2 separate regions of the Homo sapiens genome follow, and region 1 is linked to region 2. The links come from fine-mapping of genetic effects on gene expression. Tissue or cell type: whole blood. Region 2 holds a variant in brackets; the other region holds the start of a gene. All regions are shown on one strand. Distances are from middle to middle.

The links. PIP is the estimated chance that this variant, and not a neighbour inherited with it, causes the effect.
Region 1: it holds the start of TLR3, and the variant in region 2 is fine-mapped to the expression of TLR3 in whole blood (TOPMed, PIP 0.97).

Annotation. Positions count from the first base shown.
Region 1 is chr4:186,065,302-186,073,411 of GRCh38, forward strand. TLR3 (toll like receptor 3) reads left to right here and starts at 3,855. Exons shown (of 5, transcript NM_003265.3): 1 at 3,855-3,947.
Region 2 is chr4:186,176,501-186,184,610 of GRCh38, forward strand. No RefSeq gene overlaps it. Among named protein-coding and RNA genes, the nearest start is that of FLJ38576, 11 kb to the right of the region's middle. The variant G/A (reference allele first, on the strand shown) is at 3,416.

The DNA.
Region 1 (8,110 bases), 110 kb before region 2:
ACCCAGAGAACATTGGTTGGTCCAATCTCCTTGTTCCTATTCTTAAAAAGTAAACTGATACTAATGGCACAATATATGTTATTTGGGTGATGAATACCCTAAAGACCCTGACTCCATCACTATGCAATCTACGCATGGAACAAAATGGCACTAGTACTCCCATAAATCTATACAAATAAAAAAGTAAACTGAGGCACAATACAGTTTTACAGTGCTTCTGAACCAGCAATGATTCATGAACCAGAAGTGGTTGGGGAGCTCCACCAAGGGAACACAAGAGAAGGCTTTTTCAGGACAGAGACAGAAGTAGAGCAAAGACAGCGCTTGACTGTTTACAGTTATACAGCTACCTTATTTGGTCTATCTCATTGGAAAGTCCTTAGTTATATAAGTTTGTTGGCTGCTTCTGATTGGTTGTGTTTACGTTTTCTTTAATATAGGCATTTACAAGATATAGTGCTCAAGTTATTATGTTTGCGTATGTCACTTATGTTTGCAGATCAAGCAAGGTCGAGGTCGCTTATGAGCCCTTGCTGGTTTGGTATGTTCATGGATTCTTCTGGCCTGGTCTCCATTTTAATGTACTTTAACACCATGAATAAAGGTTTACTTCTGAGACTCTAAGAGCCCGTTTAAATTAAACCTATGCATGATATTGCCTCAAATACCCAACAGCTCACTCATAATTGGATATTCATTGCTGGCACAAATGTTAAGTATTACTGAGCAATTAGTTCTCTCTATATTTGGCCCTCACAGAGTGTAATTATTGTATTGTTCAGTACTAATCTGCCTTTTCACATACATGCATTGAGAGGAGAGTCTTCTGTTTGCCCCACAATTTCAATTCTCTATATTTGTGGTTAGAAACTGCGGTGACACAATCCTCATGTCTAAATTCATTCATTCGGGAGATTGTAAAGATGGTTCCGTAAAGCCTCAGTATTGTAGGTGCTGATAATGATGATAATGAAAATGATAAACTTTCCCTTATAAATCTTATAATGAATTGACTAGACTGCCTACAGACTATACACTATCTTTGTCTATAGGTAAAATGGTTGTAATTGGCCGGGCGCAGTGGCTCACGCCTGTAATCACAGCACTTTGGGAGGCCAAGGTGGGTGGATCACGAGGTAAGGAGATCGAGACCATCCTGGCTAACACGGTGAAACCTCGTCTCTACCAAAAATACAAAAAATTAGCCGGGCGTCGTGGCACGTGCCTGTAGTCCCAGCTAGCTACTCTGGAGGCTGAGGCAGGAGAATTACTTGAACCCGGTAGGCGGAGCTTGCAGTGAGCTGAGATCGCGCCACTGAATTACAGCCTGGGTGACAGAGCAAGACTCTGTCTCAGGAAAAAAAAGATTAAAAAAAATAAAAACGGCTGTTTTATTAAGAATTGTTATTAGGAACGGGCAGAGAAGAACAGTGTCTGTGTAGTTCAGCATGTGAGTGGTAATTTGCTAATTATATCTGGCTTGTCACTCCGGTCTCTGTAACTTGCTGTGTTTTGTCAAGTGATTCTTCCAGAAATTTTGTGTATATTATCTTACTAAACTCTCATTAAAGAGGCCCCTCAAATGGAAGAAGGGAACTTAGAGTTTTTAGAATGTGAATAAATTTAAGGGACTTTGGCTTCTAGAATTCTGTAGATCTCTGTTTTGCTGGGAATATACAGCTTCCCATTATTCTGAGATTGGCTGATCTGTAATGCTGTGAAATATCAGTGTTTACTAAATTTGTTATTTTACATTTATGGGCATACATTTTTTTTTAATTCTCTCTCTCTCTTTTTTTGAGACAGGGTCTCCCTCTGTTACCCAGGCTGGAGTGCAGTGGCGCACTCATGACTCAATGCAAACTTGAATTTGCCTGGACTCAAGTGATCCTCCCACCTCAGCCTCCCAAGTAGCTGAGACTATAGGCATGCACCAACATGCCCAGCTAATTTTTGTAATTTTTGTAGAGATGGAGTTTTACCACGTTGCCCAGGTTGGTCTTGAACTCCTAGGCTCAAGCAATCTCCTAAAGTGTTGGGATTACAGGCATGATCCACTGCTCCCAGCCTTAATTCTTTTAAAAAGGGGAAAAATGAGGTTTTTCACTATTGCTCCAATCACCATCATAGCTAAATAAGTTAATGCACATAGTTAAGAAATGTACAGTAGAGAGAAAACAATCTGTGTTGTATTTAGAAACTAGCAAGAATTAAGGACTAATAATATCTGAATATGAACTGGTATTAAGCCCAAACTACTGCATCAGGAGACCATCAATAAAATTTATTTATCGAGAGCCATTCATTAGTCAACCAAAGTCGTGGGAAATTTAATCTGTATAAGGAGTCATAAGGCATAAGGGATAGGTATGAAGGATTGTTGAGATGATGTGTTTTATTTCGCTAATAATGCATATGACACCATTCCAATTTTTTTAAATTTAAAACAACAATCATTTATTTGCTTGCTTCTCAAGCCTGGGTAATCGTGTTTGGCAATGAGACCTTGTTGCATGCTTGCTAATATCCCACTGGTCAAAGCTAGTCAAATGGCCAAGCCTAGAGTCAGCGTGGGAGAAGGCCACACAAGGGTTTGAATTCTGAGGACGAGTCTCTTTCATTGAAGGCCAAAGAAACAGTCTACCTCAGAGGGTTGCTGGGGAGCTATAATGCAAAGAATAAACCTCACCCTGCCTTCAAGGCGCTCACAGAGAAGAAATCTTTTGAATATTAGTGAAGTTTTCCTGGACATCCCAATGGATAGATGTGAGGGACAGTCACGTACTCAGGACATCTGTTTGCTTATGGTGTTATGTTACAGATGTCACAAATGAAAATCAGAGACATGTAGCCCTGAGCCCAGTAACTATAAAGCGGTCTAGCTGAAGCTGGAGCCCACAAGAGGGCACTTTGCACCATGATGCACGCTTGTTTCTTGCCATCAGCTCTGCAATGAGTTCAAGCTAATGCCATGTCCCAGCCGTCCAGTTGTTTTATGACTTGTGTGATTGAAGCATATGGTGGCTTGTGGCATGTTCTTAGGCAAACCACTCACCTCCCTAGGTTTCGTTTTCCTAATTTCTCAAACAAGGGAGTTAGATTAGGTGGTCTATAGTTCCTTCCAATTGTGATATTTCACTATATAACAATATAGTTATAATAGATCATAGCACATCTGTAATGAAAAAAAGTGAGTTCATTTCTTAACAAGTACATTTACTTAACTAGTTGGAGTCATTAAAGCAAATTAAGAACGAAATTCTTAGTTAATCTGAACTTTTCTGGGCATACTGATCTGTTCCCTAACGCGTCTGACCGTGGAAAAGTGGATCAGCAGGAGTGGGACTGGCTCTCAGCTTTGCCATGTTTGGCTCTTTCTCTGCTGTGAAACTCAGTTTCTTCCTGGATCAAGAGGTTAATTTCTGCCGGTGTTATTTTACAGTGTTGCAAAGAGATAAAAGCCAGACGAAAGAAGGGAAAGTACTTCAGCTTTGATTAGGGATTTTTTTTTCTGTCCCTGTGACCATACACTACTCAATTCTGACAGCTTCGCATGAGTCTAGCAGAAAATTGAGGGATTCACTGTTATTCCTTAACTTGCAGAGGTCCAGACCCGCCCACATCAAATGGTGAGGTCCCCACTTTCAACTTTAGCTGTTGCTAAATCTGTGACCCTTTCAATGAAATCCAAGGATCTCAGCTTAAAAAAAGTTAAAATAAAATAAAAACTAGGTGTTTTTCAGAGGCGGTTTGAAACGCCTCTCTGAGGTTGTCAGAGATTGTTTTTGTTTTCTCCCTTTGCCCTTCTTGGAATGCACCAAACATAAAAGCATTTTTTTTCAAGCTTTACTTTCACTTTCGAGAGTGCCGTCTATTTGCCACACACTTCCCTGATGAAATGTCTGGATTTGGACTAAAGAAAAAAGGAAAGGCTAGCAGTCATCCAAGTAAGTGAAGGTGTTCATTTCACGTTCTTACTGGGCAGGGTCTCTCTTGCTGAGTAGAGTTTGCTAGCAGAATGCATGTGGTTTTAGCCTTCTTTGGTCTTTCTTTGATCTGGTGCTTGAAATCTAGTCAGAATTATTCAGGAAGGAAAGTGGAAGAAAAGGGATATGATATGGGCATGGGAGAAGGGTATAACTCAGAACACAAGTAATAGCACCAATATCTAGTTAATGTGATAATGTATTTATGCAGTATTTAATTTTTTTCTCTGTAGCATTCTGTACCTGGAAAAAACACATTAGGGAAGCTATGGAAATCATTTTGCAACAGTCTTTTTAGCAAATCACATCTTTGCCTTAAAGAAACAAAACTCCAAGAGGTTAAAAGAGCGTATCCCCTTTTGTTAGTTTTATTGGCTGGAGGGGAGACAGGAGCTGGCATTGTATGACAATGTCTTAGATAGGAGAGAACATTCAGGTATGCCTAGGAGTAAGTAAATGGCTTTCTTTCACCTAATGAAGGATAATGGAAGAAGTGGAGAAGTGGAAAGTTGTTAAGGTGTATGGGAAGATCAGAAACTGGTATCGGCAATTGTGGGGTACTCGGGTAAAAATGGAGTTGGCTTCAGCAAGTTGATTCCCAGGTTTACAGATGATTACGTGCTGGTATGTGTCTTCATATGGGCGTGCCTGTGTATGAACCTACTACAAAGGTTGCAAAGTTTACAAATCAAACTATGGATAGTGGTTAACTCCAGGTAGTCTGCCTCCAGACCCCATGTCCTAACCATCAGGCAATATTGTCTCTCACTTGGACAAAGAATGTGAATTCCATGTGCCCTCACAAAATATTTCCAAAATTCTAAGGCTGAGTGAGTCTCTTTTTAATTTTTTTTCATTTTCTTTATTTCTGCTAGATCTCATTCAACAGCAACGTTTTCTTCACTCTCATTTCATCCTTTAACTGCATTTTTGCTTGTTTTACTGAAGCATGTCCTAGAATAACCTTTTCATACAGATCGTATGGCTATAAACTTACTGAATTTTTGCATATCTCAAAATACTTATACCTTTTTATTTAGTTATTCAGATGGATGTGAAATTTCCCTATCTTATTTTATTTTATTTTATTTCATTTTATTTCATTTATCGATTTAGAGACAAGGTCTCGCTGTGTTGCCCAGGCTGAAGTACAGTGGCATGATCGTGGCTCACTGCAGCCTTGACCTCCCTGGCTCAAGCAATTCTCACACCTCAGTGTCACGAGTAGCTGGGACCACAGGTGTGAACCACTATGGCCAGCTAATTTAAAAAAAAATTTTGGTGGAGATGAGGTTTCCCTGTGTTGCCCAGGCTGGTCCCAAACTCCTAGGCTCAAGGGATCCTCCAGCCTCAGCTTCCTAAAGTGATGGGATTACAGGCATGAGCCACAGGTAATTTTCTTGGCCTGGTCAAAGGTAATTTTCTTGTTTTTTAGAGGTAAGGTCTTGCTCTGTTGCCCAGGCTGGAGTGCAGTGGTGTGATCATGATTCATTGCAGCCTTAACCTCCTGGGCTCAAGCGATCCTCCTGCCTCAGCCTCCCAAGTAGCTGGAACTACAGGCTTGTGCCACCACACTTGGCTACTTTCTAAAATATTTTTGTAGATACGGGGTCTCACTATGTTGCCCAGGCTGGTGTTGAGCTCCTGATCTCCTTCTGCCTACACCTTCTAAAGTGCCGGGATTGTGGGGATGAGCCACTATGCTTTGCCTGGATATGAAATTTTAAATTCAAAATAATTTTCTCTAAATGTTTGGAAAGCTTATCTCTATTGTTTTCCAGTGGTTCATGTTACTGATGAAAAGTTTTTTATTAATCAAGATCTCTTTTCTTTGGAAATGAAGGTTTTAGGATTTTTGTGTGCATGGTTGCAATTCTGAAATTTCATAGGAGTCTCTCCAAGTTTGTTCCTCTTTCACTCCTCCTGCCTAGCATTTGGTGAGTTTTGCCCACTGATGAAATGTCTTCAGATGGGGCAAGTCCTTAAGTCATTCAGGGATATGCTTTGTAATGGATTAGTCCTTCTCAGCAATTCTGACCTATAGCAGGAGCCCTACCAGAGGGGTACATCTCACCTAAGCAAGGAGAATGTATTGTAGGGACCTTACCTATGAGTTGGTAAATAGAGATAGGAAGTTCTGAAGGAACTGGAAGAGAGGTTTGGGACACTCTCAGAGAGGGGGCAGGTGGGGAGCTGGTCCCCAGCATTTGAGAGGTATCATTGCCAGCCCTGCATCCTTCACGTGCCTGGGCAAGTCAGCAAATGCATCCTTGCTGGCCTAGCTGTGGCATTCCTCATGGCCTGTGGATATAAAGAATGTGCACAGCTTTACAATGATTAGTGCCAGAGTTGTAAAGGCCATGAGATGGGAATATTAGTTTATGGAAGCCAGTTTTTTTTGTTGTTTTTTCTGTTTCTGAGAACTAAATTAGAATATTAGTAAAATCGCTATTTTTAAGTATATTAGAACAATTCTATATACTCACATTAGTTCTGTTTTCCTAGGATTAGTCACCTAAGGTGATTTTATTACCTGACACTTACCTGGAATAATTTTCATGTCATGACTTTTAGATCTTGTGGAATATCTATTTAGATATCATTACCACTGCTTCATCTCCATACCTTGTGGGTGTATTTGATTTTTTAAAATATCTGAAATTTGGTTGTTGATCACACCACAGAGTATCACACTGGGTACACATCCCACCAAAATAAAGTGTGACAATGTATGGAGTTGAGTGGCTTTCCTGAGCTGACTAAATGCCCATGGAAAGCTATTGTATGAGTGCATTCTCACATTGCTCTACAGAAATACCTGAGACTGGTCATTTATAAAGAAAGAGGTTCAATTGGCTGATGGTTCTGCAAGTGGTGCAGGCAGCATAGCAGCCTCTGCTTCTGGAGGAGCCTCAAGGAGCTTTCACCCACCACAGAAGGCAAAGCCAGAGCTGGCACCTTCACATAGCCGGAGCAGGAAGAAGAGAGAAGGGGAAGGTGCCACACACTTTTATTTTTTTATTATTTATTTTGGGGGGAGTGGGGGCGAAGTCTCACTTTGTCACCCAGGCTGGAGTGCATGTGGTGGGATCTCGGCTCACTGCAGCCTCCGCTTCCCTAGTTCAAGCGATTCTCCTGCCTCGGCCTTCCCAGTAGCTGGGATTACAGGCACCCACCACCACACCCAGCTAATTTTTGTATTTAGTAGAGACACGGTTACACCATGTTGGCCAGGCTGGTCTCAAACTCCTGACCTCAGGTGATCTGCCCACCTTGGCCTCCCAAGTGCTGGGGTTACAGGCGTGAGCCACTGCGCCCAACCACCACACACTTTTAAACGACCGAATCTCATAAGAATTCACTCACTCACTATCGGGAGAACAGCACCGAGGGGGTGGTGCTGAACCATCTGTGAGAACTCTGCCCCATGAGCCAGTCACCTCCCACCAGCCCCCACCTCCAACACTGGGAATTACAATTCAACGTGTGGTGTGGGTGGAGACGCAGAGGCAAACCATATCGGCTATGTATTCAACATATATTTATTTCTTCAGAGCCAACAAAGTGCCAGGTCTTGTTCTAGGCACAGACAACACCGTATGGAATAAGAACTATGTCCTCTACTATTATAGCTTCACATTCTAGTGAGAAGCAATAATTAATAATAAATAATACACAATATTGGATAATTTCCATCAACCATAGCAACGGAAAAGGCAATCTAGAAGAAGAGCAAGATGGGAGGTTTCGCTCACTGAACTTCAAGACTTGTTGTAAAGCTAAAGTAATCCGAACAATGTGGTATTGGCCTAAGAACTAACAAATATTTCAGTGGAAGAGAGTAGACAGCCCAGAAATAGACCCTCGCTTAAAACATTTACTCGGTTTCTAAGGAAAGCACAGAACAATCCGGTGGGGGAAAGAAGTCTCTTTAAAAAATGGTCTGACTGGACCAGGCGTGGTGGCTCACCCCTATAATCCCAGCACTTTGGGAGGCCGAGGTGGATGGATTACCTGAGGTCAGGAGTTCAAGACCAGCCTGGCCAACATGGTGAAACCCTGTCTCTACTACAAATATAAAAATTAGCCAGGCATGGTGGCGCGTGCCTGTAGTCCCAGCTACT
Region 2 (8,110 bases):
AATGGAGGAAAAAGAAGTACTGAGCCTTGTGCCTTTTAACATCTAAAGGCCTGGGATGTGAAGGAAAACCAGCAAAGCAGACTGAGAAAGAATGGCTGGTGAAGGGAAATAAGAGTCAGGAGAATGTGGCGTCCTCAAAGTATGTGTGTGTTTGTGCGGGGGAAGTGTTTCAAGGAAGTGATAGGGACTCAAGTATGTTGAATGCTGTTGATGAGTCAATTACGATGAGGTCTGAGAATCAGACTAAAGGTCTAGCCACATGGAAGTTACTGGTGGCCTTGACAAGATCTGCTAGGTGAATGGACAAGGCGAAAGTAGGCTTGCAGTGGGTTTGGGAGAAAAGAAGAAGAGAGAAATCCAAGACAGTAGTCATGGGCAAGTCTTCCAGGGAATTTTTCTGTACAGGGGAGTAGAGTATGTGTGTGTGTGTGTGTGTGTGTGTGTGTGTGTGCATGCACGTGTGTTTCCTAGTAAGGTTCATCTTGATGAATGTCATTATTCAGTATAAAAATGTTGATCCAAAAAGGAAGATAGCTCTAGTGTTCTCTGGAGGACATGCAGAGTGTATTCCCACTGGAAAATTAAAGAAAAAGCTGACAGAGCTGAGTGAATAGTAAGTTATAACTCAGAAGCAACATTCAGAGAAGGCTACACCTTGTGAAGGATGTCTTCAGAGTTCACAAAAAGAACATTGTGGGGGTGAAAGTTTTAGCTTAGAAGGCAAAAGATTTCAAAAATATACAGAATCAAAATGATGTTAAAAATAAACATGGAGGCATTCCACTACTGTTTATGAAAGAATAGTTCATGAGCAAACTGACCTACTGAGAACAACTATAAAAGCTATAAATGGACAAGAAACAGCTCTTTGGAGGCACGCGTGGACACCCACATCCACACCCACCCAGCCCCCCAAGACAAAGCAGCACAACTTCAGGAAACAAATTGGGAGACAACAGGAATAATACATTGAGATGAACCCCATATTTGCTACTGTTTTCTTTCCCTGTATCAATATATTTTAGATTAGTAATGGGGCATAGAGGCCAAGAAAAAGGGATACCCTCAAAATTTGTGACAAGCTCACTAGGCTGCCAAAAGGAATGATGTTGGGAAATGTCTCAGACTTTGAATTGATAATCTTGAAGGACTACACTCTAGGAGTAAGGGCAAGCTTAATACAGACAAGTCCTCAAAACACTAGAAGCAGAACCTAGAATCAATGAAACCTCTGTTTAGATCCAGGTTATATGCCTGTACTTTATATGACCACCAGAAAAAGTATCCTCTTTAAAGAAATATAGCATCACCTAGAATTTCTATTATTTTTATATACAATGTACAGCATTCAATCTAAAATTAAGAGACAGCCCAGGATATAGGGCCAAGTGACTGAAAGCCAAGAGAGAAAACAAAATTATAATGGACCCACACGTGATTAAAATAGTAGCACTATCAGGTACAAGCTAAGAAACAATTTGATTTGCACATTCAAAAATATATTGAAAAACAATTTCAAGAGAGAACTGTAATCTGAAAAATAATCAAACTGATATCCTAGAAATGAATAATACAATGACTCAATAATTCACTAGCTGTGTTGAACTGCAGATTACACATAGCAGACAAGAGGCTTAGTAAACTGGAAGGCAGGTCAATACACAGTATTCACTTTGAACAAGCATAAAAAATAGATATTCCTTAAAAATTGTGAGGCCATGTGAAAAAATCTCATATCCGTGTAATGATAGTCATAGAGGAGAAAGAGAATAGAACAATGCAGTATTGAACAGATACCATGAAAGAATCTTCCAAAAATAGATAGAAGACATCGATGCAGTCATTTAAGAAGCTATAAGAAACACAAGATAGAAAGCAAAACATACTCAGGTCCATCACAAACTGCTAGAAACCCCAAATCAAAAAGAACCAAACAGCAGTCAGAGGGAGGGGGGAAAGACTCATTATCTTCAAAGAAGCAACAATAAGACTAATATTTGACTTTTCAACACAAGTGATGGAAGCTGAAAGACAATATAAAAAGCATCTTTAAAGTGCTGAAAAAAATAATTGCCAACCCAGAATTTTATACGTAGTAAACATATACCTCAAAAATGAGGGCAAAAGAGCAGTATTTTCAGATAAACCAAAATTGGGAATTTATCACCGGCAAATCTGTACTAAAGGAAATACAAACGAGAGCTCTTCACAGAGTAGGAAAATTATCCCAGAAGGAAGTACAATGATAAAAGAAGAAGTAATAAAGATCAGAATGTATACATACGTGGGAAAATAGAAAAGAATACTTACTGTATAAAATAATGAGTAATACAGAATTCAGTATATATTTGGGATTAAAATATTATAGAAATAGCTTAAAATTGGGAAGGGTTTATTTGCTGTTAAAGTGTTATAGATTCATCATTGTCCAGGATTACTGTTCTAAGGTAGAGTTTTATAAAGCAGTGCGTGTGATATAGCGAGATGAAGGCACAAAATACTATCAGGAATGAAAATAGGCATACCACTGCTGATTCTATAGATGTGAAAAAAGATAAGCATTATACTATGAATAACTTGATTTGGTAATTTAGATGAAAATTAAAACTTTGAAAAAATCACATCACTCAAGAAGAAATAGAAAATTTGAAAAGGGTTATGTCTATTATAAGACTTAAATGTATTATTAAAAGCCTTCTCACAAAGACAACTCCAAGTCCTGCTGACTTCATTGGTTAATCCTTCCAAATATTTAAGGAAAAACTAATACCACTAGTAGCAATATCAAAAAGCTCTTCAGGCCTGGGCATAGTGGCTCATGCCTATAATCCCAGCACTTTGGGAGGCTGAAGCAGGAGGATTGCTTGAGCCCAGAGGCTCGAGGTTACAGTGAGTTATGATCACGCCACTGCACTCCAGCCTGGGTAACAGAGTGAGACTTTGTCTCTCTAAAAAACTAACAAAAAAGTTATTCAAGATGATTGTCATTTTGTAAGGCTACCACAACCCTGATACAAAACCTAACAAGGACATTACAAAAAAAAAAAGTAAATTACAATAAAGTAACTGAGAATTATAAAAAAAAAAAAAAAAGCGAATTATAGGCCAATATCATCCCTGAACTCCCAAGCAAAATCAAATCAGTAATATATGAAATAGATAATACGTACCATCCAAATTAAATTTATTTCAGAAATGCAAGTTTGATGTACCATGTGAAAATCATTCAGTGCAACAAATGATGTAAGGAAACAAGCATGGGATCTTCTCGAAAGATGAAGAAAATGTCTTTATAAAAATTCTTAGTCAACCAGGAAGATAAGAATATCACTGTTATCTCTTCATGAGTATCTAGGGGAAAAAAACAACTGCAAACTGCATACTTAGTGGTAATTTTATTCTGATTTTACTTACT[G/A]AAGAAGCTATACTTCCTGAGATCAGATAATACGAAGTGTCAGCTACCGCCACTGTTATTCATGATACAGAATATATTTTCCACCCCAGCAGGGCAAGATTAAATTATTAAAGGGTCTTAAGATTTAGGAAGAAAGAAACAATTTGGTTTTTCACAGAAAACATGATTGTGTACATAGAAAATCCAAAATAATTACAAACACACTTAAAAATGTGATTTAACAACATCATTGAAAACAGTCAATATAAAAATTACGTGCATTTCTATATAACAACAGATAATACAATTTATAAAAATACAATATAATAGATTCAAAAATCAAATACCTAGGAATAAATTTAATAAAAATGAGTATATTAGAGTTCTTCAGAGCAACAAAATTATTAGGAGATATTAGATTATGTAATATAATGTATATCTGGAGGGAGAGAGTTTTTCTTTTTTTTGATTTGAGTGTATTTTATTTTATTTTATTTTTTATTATACTAAGTTCTAGGGTACATGTGCACAATGTGCAGGTTTGTTACATATGTATACATGTGCCATGTTGGTGTGCTGCACCCATTAATTCGTCATTTACATTAGGTATATCTCCTAATGCTATCCCTCCCCTCTCCCCACACCCTATGACAGGCCCTGGTGTGTGATGTTCCCCATCCTGTGTCCAAGTGTTCTTATTGTTCAATTCCCACCTATGAGTGAGAACATGTGGTGTTTGGGTTTCTGTCCTTGCGACAGTTTGCTCAGAATGATGGTTTCCAGCTTCATCCATGTCCCTACAAAGGACATGACCTCATCCTTTTTTATGGCTACATAGTATTCCATGGTGTATATGTGCCACATTGTCTTAATCCAGTCTATCATTGATGGACATTTGGGTTGGTTCCAAGTCTTTGCTATTGTGAATAGTGCCGCAGTAAACATACGTGTGCATGTGTCTTTATAGCAGCATGATTTATAATCCTTTGGGTATATACCCAGTAATGGGATGGCTGGGTCAAATGGTATTTCTAGTTCTAGATCCTTGAGGAATTGCCACACTGTCTTCCACAATGGTTGAACTAGTTTACAGTCCCACCAACAGTGTAAAAGTGTTCCTATTTCTCCACATCCTCTCCAGCACCTGTTGTTTCCTGACTTTTTAATGATCGCCATTCTAACTGCTGTGAGATGGTATCTCATTGTGGTTTTGATTTGCATTTCTCTGATGGCCAGTGATGATGAGCATTTTTTCATGTGTCTGTTGGCTGCATAAATGTCTTCTTTTGAGAAGTGTCTGTTCATATCCTTCGCCCACTTGTTGATGGGGTTGTTTGATTTTTTTCTTGTAAATTAGTTTAAGTTCTTTGTAGATTCTGGATATTAGCCCTTTGTCAGATGGGTAGATTGCAAAAATTTTCTCCCATTTTGTAGGTTGTCTGTTCACTCTGATGGTAGTTTCTTTTGCTGTGCAGAAGCTCTTTAGTTTAATTAGATCCCATTTGTCAATTTTGGCTTTTGTTGCCATTGCTTTTGGTGTTTTAGACATGAAGTCCTTGTCCATGCCTATGTCCTGAATGGTATTGCCAAGGTTTTCTTCTAGGGTTTTTATGGTTTTAGGTCTAACATTTAAGTCTTTAATCCATCTTGAATTAATTTTTTATAAGGTGTAAGGAAGGGATCCAGTTCCAGCCTTCTGCATATGGGCTAGCCAGTTTTCCCAGCACCATTTATTAAATAGGGAATCCTTTCCCCATTTCTTGTTTTTGTCAGGTTTGTCAAAGATCAGATGGTTGTAGATGTGTGGTATTATTTCTGAGGGCTCTGTTTTGTTCCATTGGTCTATATCTTTGTTTTGGTACCAGTACCATGCTGTTTTGGTTACTGTAGGCTTGTAGTATAGGTTGAAGTCAGGTAGCGTGATGCCTCCAGCTTTGTTCTTTTGGCTTAGGATTGACTTGGCAATGCGGGCTCTTTTTTGGTTCCATATGAACTTTAAAGTAGTTTTTTCCAATTCTGTAAAGAAAGTCATTGGTAGCTTGATGGGGATGGCATTGAATCTATAAATTACCTTGGGCAGTATGGCCATTTTCACAATATTGGTTCTTCCTATCCATGAGCATGGAATGCTCTTCCATTTGTTTGTGTCCTCTTTTATTTGGTTCAGCAGTGGTTTGTAATTCTCTTTGAAGAGGTTATTCACATCCCTTGTAAGTTGGATTCCTAGGTATTTTATTCTGTTTGTAGCAATTGTGAATGGGAGTTCACTAATGATTTGGCTCTCTGTTTGTCTGTTATTGGTGTATAGGAAAGCTTGTGATTTTTGCATATTGATTTTGTATCCTGAGACCTTGCTGAAGTTGCTTATCAGCTTAAGGAGATTTTGGGCTGAGATGATGGGTTTTCTAAATATACAGTCATGTCATCTGCAAACAGGGACAATTTGACTTCCTCTTTTCCTAATTGAATACCCTTTATTTCTTTCTCCTGCCTGATTGCCCTGGCCAGAACTTCCAACACTATGTTGAATAGGAGTGGTGAGAGAGGGCATCCCTGTCTTGTGCCAGTTTTCAAAGGGAATGCTTCCAGTTTTTGCCCATTCAGTATGATATTGGCTGTGGGCTTGTCATAAATAGTTCTTATTATTTTGAGATATGTCCCATCAATACCTAATTTATTGAGAGTTTTTAGCATGAAGGGTTGTTGAATTTTGTCAAAGGCCTTTTCTGCATCTATTGAGATAATCATGTGGTTTTTGTCTTTGGTTCTATTTATATGCTGGATTACATTTATTGATTTGCATATGTTGAACCATCCTTGCATCCCAGGGGTGAAGCCCACTTGATCATGGTGGATAAGCTTTTTGATGTGCTGCTGGATTTGGTTTGCCAGTATTTTATTGAGGATTTTTGCATCGATATTCATCAGGGATATTGGTCTAAAATTCTCTTTTTTGTATGTGTCTCTGCCAGGCTTCGGTATCAGGATGATGCTGGCCTCATAAAATGAGTTAGGGAGGATTCCCTCTTTTTCTATTGATTGGAATAGTTTCAGAAGGAACGGTACCAGCTCCTCTTTGTACCTCTGGTGGAATTCGGCTGTGAATCCATCTGGTCCTGGACTTTTTTTGGTTGGTAGGCTCTTAATTATTGCCTCGATTTCAGAGCCTGTTATTGGTCTATTCAGGGATTCAACTTCTTCCTAGCTTAGTCTTGGGAGGGTGTATGTGTCCAGGAATTTATCCATTTCTTCTAGATTTTCTAGTTTATTTGCATAGAAGTGTTTATAGTATTCTCTGAGGTAGTTTGTATTTCTGTGGGATCGGTGGTGATATCCCCTTTATCATTTTTTATTGCGTCTATTTGATTCTTCTCTGTTTTCTTCTTTATTAGTCTTGCTAGCGGTCTATCAATTTTGTTGATCTTTTCAAAAAACCACATCCTGGATTCATTGATTTTTTGAAGGGTTTTTTGTGTCTCTATCTCCTTCGGTTCTGCTCTGATCTTAGTTATTTCTTGCCTTCTGCTAGCTTTTGAATGTGTTTGCTCTTGCTTCTCTAGTTCTTTTAATTGTGATGTTAGGGTATCAATTTTAGATCTTTCCTGCTTTCTCTTGTGGGCATTTAGTGCTATAAATTTCCCTCTACACACTGCTTTAAATGTTTCCCAGAGATTCTGGTATGTTGTGTCTTTGTTCTCATCGGTTTCAGAGAACATCTTTATTTCTGCCTTCATTTCATTATGTACCCAGTAGTCATTCAAGAGCAGGCTGTTCAGTTTCCATGTAGTTGAGCGGTTTTGAGTGAGTTTCTTAATCCTGAGTTCTAGTTTGATTGCACTGTGGTCTGAGAGACAGTTCGTTATAATTTCTGTTCTTTTACATTTGCTGGGGAGTGCTTTACTTCCAACTATGTGGTCAATTTTGGAATAAGTGCGATGTGGTGCTGAGAAGGATGTATATTCTGTTGATTTATGGTGTAGAGTTCTGTAGATGTCTATTAGGTCTGTTTGGTGCAGAGCTGAGTTCAATTCCTGGATATCCTTCTTAACTTTCTGTCTCGTGGATCTGTCTAATGTTGACAGTGGGGTGTTAAAGTCTCCCATTATTATTGTGTGGGAGTCTAAGTCTCTTTATAAGTCTCTAAGGACTTGCTTTATGAATCTCAGTGCTCCTGTATTGAGTGCATATATATTTAGGATAGTTAGCTCTTCTTGTTGAATTGATCCCTTTACCATTATGTAATGGCCTTCTTTGTCTCTTCCGATCTTTGTTGGTTTAAAGTCTGTTTTATCAGAGACTAGGATTGCAACCCCTGCTTTTTTTTTTTGTTTTCCATTTGCTTGGTAGATCTTCCTCCATCCCTTTATTTTGAGCCTATATGTGTCTCTGCACGTGAGATGGGTCTCCTGAATACAGCACACTGATGGATCTTGACTCTTTATCCAGTTTGCCAGTCTGTGTCTTTTAATCGGCACATTTAGCCCATTTACATTTAAGGTTAATATTGTTATGTGTGAATTTGATCCTGTCATTATGATGTTAGCTGGTTATTTTGCTCGTTAGTTGATGCAGTTTCTTCCTAGCCTGATGGTCTTTACAATTTGGCATGTTTTTGCAGTGGCTGGTACCAGTTGTTCTTTTCCATGTTTGGTGCTTCCTTCAGGAGCTCTTGTAAGGCAGGCCTGGTGGTGACAAAATCTCTCAGCATTTGCTTGT